2 linked regions of the Homo sapiens genome follow. The protein of the gene in region 2 interacts with the protein of the main gene of each other region in a pairwise test. Each region holds a gene or a part of one and is shown on either strand. Other genes may lie near its edges.

The links. Proteins that work in one complex are often made in the same cells at the same time.
Region 1: the proteins of CTNND1 (region 2) and FRMD5 interact in binary tests that used the Homo sapiens proteins (3 or more experiments, as listed by UniProt).

What each region holds. Positions count from the first base shown.
Region 1 is NC_000015.10:43,887,754-43,891,407, forward strand, and holds part of FRMD5 (FERM domain-containing protein 5), read right to left. Parts: intron 1,120-3,654; coding exon 1,056-1,119; intron 514-1,055; coding exon 422-513; intron 1-421. UniProt on the Homo sapiens protein: May be involved in regulation of cell migration. May regulate cell-matrix interactions via its interaction with ITGB5 and modifying ITGB5 cytoplasmic tail interactions such as with FERMT2 and TLN1.
Region 2 is NC_000011.10:57,813,680-57,816,952, forward strand, and holds part of CTNND1 (catenin delta-1), read left to right. Parts: intron 1-631; coding exon 632-694; intron 695-1,714; coding exon 1,715-1,821; intron 1,822-2,235; coding exon 2,236-2,322; intron 2,323-2,617; coding exon 2,618-2,629; 3' UTR 2,630-3,273. UniProt on the Homo sapiens protein: Key regulator of cell-cell adhesion that associates with and regulates the cell adhesion properties of both C-, E- and N-cadherins, being critical for their surface stability.

The DNA.
Region 1 (3,654 bases), on a different chromosome or scaffold from region 2:
GTGAGAGCAGGGCTCACCCCAGGTAGAATATACCACACTCTGTCTTGCCTTGACCTCATTCAGATACATCTTAGTAAAGCATAAATCATTACGGTATATTTTTAAAACAAGACCAAAGGGCTTAGTGAGACATATTTTACCTGGCATCATGCCCTCAGTGGGCCATTTCTTCACTACCTAATGCTTTTATAACCACTTTCTTAACCGAAGAAAACAACACAAAAGCCCCACATTCTTTACAAAATCCCTTTGGTAGGCAAAGCTCTTGCCTTTGGCCTCAACCTGGCTTCTCAGTAACTGTCAAGCTCTTGCCCACTTCCAGCTACCCCGCCCCAAGTTCCTGGGCACTTGGCCTCCTGTCACCGACTCTCTCTGACTCTGGCTCTAAGAAAGACAGTCCCCATCACATGTATCCACTCACTTGTAGAAGGCTTGGTTCTCGATTCCACATTTCCAGAGGTGCTTACACGCTTCAGGAGTTGGAGCAAAATATGTAAGAATAATTTTCTTTTCCTGCAAAAAATTCCACATTGATATGGCTGAGTGTGGATGGAGAAGCAAAGGGTGAAGTAGGCGAGGACCCTGACCCCAGAGCTGTTAGAGGCCCTGGCAGCTGGCTAGTTAGAGGGGAGGGCCTGTGGGACCCACTGAGGCAGAGCTCAGTTAAGTGCATCACATCATACTTGGCAAGTCCAATCAGGGTAAGTCTCAGCTGGCACAAAAGTGGCACAAATTGAACCAGGAGAGCTCTTGGTGAGAAAGTTGCCCTTGCCTCTGGAATTCCCATATACACGAAAGAAAAAGAGCCTTCCTTTGCATTTCCTGGAGGTAAAGATCTCTTGAGTGGAAGCTCTGGGTGTCAATAGCATCCCTGAGGAAGTCCTGTGCTCCAGGGCCTTCCCGCTCCTTCATATTGTACCTCCAGGTCCTGACCTTGGTCTTGGCTTAGTATGTGGGTAGCTTGGCTCTACTGGGGTCCCTCAAGCTTGGCTCTGGCCACCAGGAAGCATCCCATCACCCCAGCCCTCCTTGAAGAGAAGGAAGCCAGCACTCACCTCTTTCTGACTTACGTATAAATAGAAAGTCTTTCCTTCAAATTTCAGCTTGGTCACCTCATTCCTAGAAGCACAAAGATAGTGCCTGTCACCTCATTGTGGGCTGCTTGTTCACAGCTAAATCTTGTAGATGCACAGCCCACCCCAACTGGAAGGGGCTCCAGGCACAGACACAATTTTAGCCAAAATCAGAACTGAAACAAGACAGCAGCGCAGTGGCCTTAGAGAATGTTGTTGAAACAGTTCAATCCACAGTTTTCTGGTCAATCACACTATAGTAATAGGGTGACAGGAGGATTTCGGGCTTATCAACAGTGGCTGTAAAAGGGAAACATTTGCATGGAAAGTGAGTCTAGGTAGAGTATCTGGGGTCATTTCAGGATTGGGTTCATAACACAGGTGCATTATCTGGATGGGACTGTCAAACGTAAGATGCCACAGGTAGCTGATGAGGCCAAAGTTCAAGATACAGCAAATAATGAGAAACAATGCAACCAGGTTCTGAGGGAGTTGAGTCTTTCAGGTGACTGTGCCACTGGATGGAAAATGCAGTTTAATGCAGACAAATATCAAACAATCTCAGGGAGCGGGGCAGGGCAACATACCAAAGAGAGAGAACAGATTACATGGAACAGTCATGCAGCGTACTGACCAGGAAAGGGGCTTAGGGGTTATTGTAGAAAAATCCTTGAAGCCACCAGCCCAGTGAATGGCTGCAGTAAAAGAGGCAAACAGGATACTGGGGTACATCACCCGTGGGACAGACACAAATCAGAAGAAGTGACATGGTTACTGTACATGGCACGGCCTAGACCTCACCTCCACATCCACCTCCTGCTCTCAGCCTTGGTTACATTTGCAAAACGGAAAAACTACTGGGTCTTAGGTGAATGTCCCTGAGAGCCATGGAACTAGGCCTCAGCACTGGTTGCTCCTCACTTCCCTTCTATCTGCCCAACATAGCTGCCCTCTGGAGTCTCTCAGCCCTCTCCATGTCACTGGAGGCCCCATTTTTCAACCCAACTGGGACCCCCAAGGCGGTCTTGTCATGCACATTCACCTCCACTTGGCTGCTGCTTTTTTTTGTAATTTCTAAGGAGATTTCCTTCATCTCCTAGGAAATAGTAGAAAGGTAGCGAGAATCATGTACCCAACTTACTGCTGGAAAAAGTTCAGGGGACAGAGGAAAATCACTTGTTCTCCATGCTCCTGAAAATCATGGCTGGGTCAGGATGAGATTTCACAACTTCTGACCACCAGTTCTGAGCTAACACAAGTCACACGGTATTCCTTCCCTGTTTGATTCCCTCTCAAACTCCCTCTCAATCAACCATCAATCTCATACACACACAGTACAATAATGCCAATTGGTTAATATATAGACAAGCACACAGATCACCTAGGTTCCAACAAGCAAGCTAGGAAAGTAAGGAGTTTTATTTTGAGAGTGAGATTGGGTTTACATCTATTATTACAGAGTTGACACATGGTGAAGAGGAGACTTCTAGAAGAAGTGGTGCATGAGAGAAGCCGTGGAAAGAAAAGTGTCTGTGAGAACCAAGAGCCATCATGGTTTCTGGAAGGGTGGGTATAATTTAGGGACTGCAGGTGTCTGTGACAGGTGTGTCCTACTTGTTTCTAGCCAAACATTCCCTCTAACAGGGACCTCACCCAACAGCTACTCTGGTTGGAATGTGGATCTGGGCCCTCTAAAGAATATCAAATAGCCCAGATGTATCCAGGCAGCAGAGACCCCACACTAGGAGGGCTGAGGCCTGATCCTGCTCATTGCCTTTTTCTGAAAAGCATTTTGTTGGACAGGAGATTGCAAATCCTCACATCTTCACCCAGAGAGCACAGTGAAGTGGGCCGACTTGAGGATGCCTAGGAAACAGGTATGTTGGGGTGTATTCTGGTAACTCCAGGGCAGCAGCTGCCTTGTGGCACGGCTGTTGTCCTGGGGAGTCGAGTTTCCTGTCCTGTGTGAGGAGCAGTTTCACCAGCACTCTGGCTGACGATCGTAATGCCCTCCTTCACAAAATCAAGGTGGGCTGGAAAGGCGGTATCTGTCCTCAAGCTCAAACTCAGTGGGGGAGCTGAAGAGGGCACAGCGGGATAGATGGTCTGCAGTGTCCCCAGCAGAACGCTGACTAGGAAGCAACTGTACTCAAGATTCCTCATGAGCTCTCCTGGAGAAGACAAACCAAACAGACTTCCCCCCACTGAGCTCTGCTGGACCAAGGGAAGCCACTTATCTAAGCCCCTAGAAGGAGCTGGCCAGCTTAGACTTGGCAGTCTGAGGCCCAGGAAGGTACAGAAATCACAAGAGCTTAGTAGAATATGCAAAATGTTTTGATGACGCTGACAGATGTTTGTATGGGCTGGCCAGCTAAAGGGTCTCCAGGAAAGCCAAATGTCAATCAACAAACCAGAGTCTGCCCAGAGGCATGCAGCAGAACAGACCCCAAATAAAACAGAGAGGGGCAGGAGAGGAAGCAGCTCAGAGTAGCTGCAGCTGAGGCAGTGGCTCTTGCCTGTTAGATGGGAGTGGAGAAGGGAGGGAAGGAAGAAAGAGTGGGAATATGACTCCTGGAAGCTG
Region 2 (3,273 bases):
ACTTTTTATCTGTGTGAGGCTGGATTTTCTTGATATACATTAACTACAATAACATATCACAAAAGATTGAATGCAGAAGCAGGTATGAGAATCTAAGCCAAATTTCAAAGAGATATACAAAAATGAAAAGGATGTTATTAAAGATTATTTATGATAACATGTAAGAAGTTTACCATTAAGTGAAATAGATACTTTAAACTTGTCAGTATGGTAACAATTAATACATAAAACTCACACCAATGAAGGTTCTTTAGATCCTTATAATTTTTAAGACTGTAAAACGGCCTTGAGACCAAATAATTTGAAAACTGCTAGTTTAGATGGAATTGTTTTTTGATTTAAGAGTCTGTAGGGGCCAGGTGTGATGGCTCACACCTGTAATCCCAGTACTTTGGGAGACTGAGGTGGGAGAATCACTTGAGCCCAGGAGTTTCAGACCAGCCTGAGCAACATAGTGAGACCTCATCTCTACAAAAAGCTTAAAAATTATCCAGGCATTGTGATGCACATAGTTGGTGCTAAGTAGAAGTGTGAATGAAGGGAAGGAAGGAGGACCAGAGAGCAATTTTCATGATGTGTACAGATTTTGAAGAATTGTTTTTGACATGGATAACTTTCTGACTTCATACAGATAAGAAACCTGATCGGGAAGAAATTCAGATGAGCAATATGGGATCAAACACAAAATCACTAGGTAGGTGATTAATTCCTGCCTAAGGATGTGGAGTAATATTTCACTGGCTAAGGAGAGCTGTCTAGCTCTATAGTTTTTTTTCTAATACCCTTACCATTTACCATCCTGGGAGAGCATTGGCTGATCATTTCCATTTTGAAGGATGTAAGGAAATTTAATAAAATCTGATCCGTCTACTTTTTCTACATTCCTACATGCTCAAAGGTTTTCAGAAATCTTTCTATGCCTCTCCTATTACTACACATTCAAGTTTGTAGCCCATTATATTCCTACCCCAGTCTCCTTCTCTGGAGTGAATGGATACATCTGTTTCTGCCCAACTATTCTGCTTGCTATTCTATCTATTCACTCTATAGTTTGATTCTGCTCATGTAATACCTCTTACTGGTATGTCCTTCCCTTTTGTCTTTCTAAATTCTCTTTATCTCCAAAGGCTTAACTCAAGTCCTGTTTTCCCTTGTCAGGTCCTTCCTAACGATTGCAGCATATTTCACTCGCTCTTCTTTTAATTCCCATAACCTTTTCAGACAAACCTCTTGTTTAGCTTTATTATGTCATATTCTGGGTATTTTATACATATTGTCTTCCATCTTAGATTCAAGTTCTTTTTTTGAGACAGAGTCTCACTCGTTCACCTGGGCTGGAGTGCAGTGGCGTGATTCTCATACCTCAGCCTCCCGAGTAGCTGGGACTACAAGTGTACACCATCACACCTGGCTTATTCTTATATTTTTAGTAGAGATGGGGTTTCACCATGTTGGCTAGGCTGATCTTGAACTCCTGGCCTTAAGTGATCTGCCCGTCTCAGCTTCCCAAAGTGCTGGGATTACAGGCATGAGCCACCACGGTCAGCCAGATTCAAGTTCTTTAAGTCGGGGACCATCAGACTTTAATGCCTTTGTGGAGCATTTGACAAGCTCAGTTCCCAACAGTGATGCCTAATTACACCTATCTGTTTGATATACGTTTTACACTAGAGGGGAATGTCATATTTCTGTGTACTTTTTTTTTTTTAACCAGATAACAACTATTCCACACCAAATGAGAGAGGAGACCACAATAGAACACTGGATCGATCGGGGGATCTAGGCGACATGGAGCCATTGAAGGGAACAACACCCTTGATGGTAAATTCTCTTTATATACTGCTATCTGTCTAAGGCTAGTTCTATTTTGAAGCCTATGTGTTTTGTGAAACACAAAAAAAAGTACAGAGAAAGATCGCATCCTTTTCTGGTAGGGGTTTTCAGGAAAAAGTAAGAGTTCTGACTCATGTTGGGATTTCTTGGGCCGTTATTCTGCAGTGGTCAAAATGGGGGAAGCATGTCTGTAAAAGTGTTACTGATATGACTAACACTAACTGATCTACTTTCAAACATTACCTTTTTCCTCTCCCTCCCTGTTTATGAATGTTTTGCCCTTCTCTTACTATTATATCTTGTTTTGTTTGAGTTTACAAATTTTCAGAGTTTCCCTAGCTCTGGCACACACTCATGAGGTTCCTGTCTCTACTCATACTAACAAATTGCATGTGTTCACAGCAGGACGAGGGGCAGGAATCTCTGGAGGAAGAGTTGGATGTGTTGGTTTTGGATGATGAGGGGGGCCAAGTGTCTTACCCCTCCATGGTATGTCCTTCAGTCACCCCCAAGATTGTTCTTGAGGAAGGAGGCTCCTGAGTGCCAGCAACTTGTCAATCACGCTAATCTGATCAGGCCAGAGACTAAGTAGTCTCAGCCACATGGGGCTCGAGGGGTTCTGCTTTTGTGATTATTACCTCTTACGAGTCTGGGACATGCAGCTGGTGATCTGATTCTCCGTTATGTGCTGCTTTCCTTTCTCCAGATTTGCTCAACTTTTTTGGGGGGGGTCTCCTTAATCCCAACCCCATTAACATTCTCTCTTTCTCTTTTTTCTCCACAGCAGAAGATTTAGCACCACTATCTCCGTTCCATCTGGGCTTATATGTACTTTTATTTTTTGGTGGTGAAATTGACTGATGATTTTCCTTTTTCTTCGCTGGACTATTGTGCCAACTGCCAGGCTGCCTCCTGCCCTTACAGCCCTAAGTGGCTGCCTTCTTTCCATCAACTCCCAACTTCTTCCTGTGAAGTTTAATTGTCTCAACGCCTCCCCCTCCCCCATTCCCTCCATTTTTCTCCCAAGAAACCTGACTCAATTATTTGCATATTTTGAGAAACTGCTGCAGATTAGTTCTTTTTGCCAGTTTTCCCTGGAACTCCTGGCCTTTTGTGGAGGGGAGGGATGGAGAGAATAGGAATCTTCACTAGAAGCCGTGGGAAGAATTGGAAGTTACATGCTGTATATGCAATGTCCAGCAGTCTGATAAACTGACGATTCTTAATCAAGATTTTTTTCCTGATGGGGAAGGGACTTTTATTTTCTTTTAGAGAGGGGAAAGTGTGAGCTCTTCCCTTATTCCTAATGGCTATTTTTGAAGCAAAGAAGGCCAGCAACATTGGCACATGCCACCTGGCAAAGGACCCTTGAGTAAGTGAAGGTCTCCTAAAACTGGGATTAAGAAACCTTGCTCTCCTCATCTCCAAGGCAGGGACCAT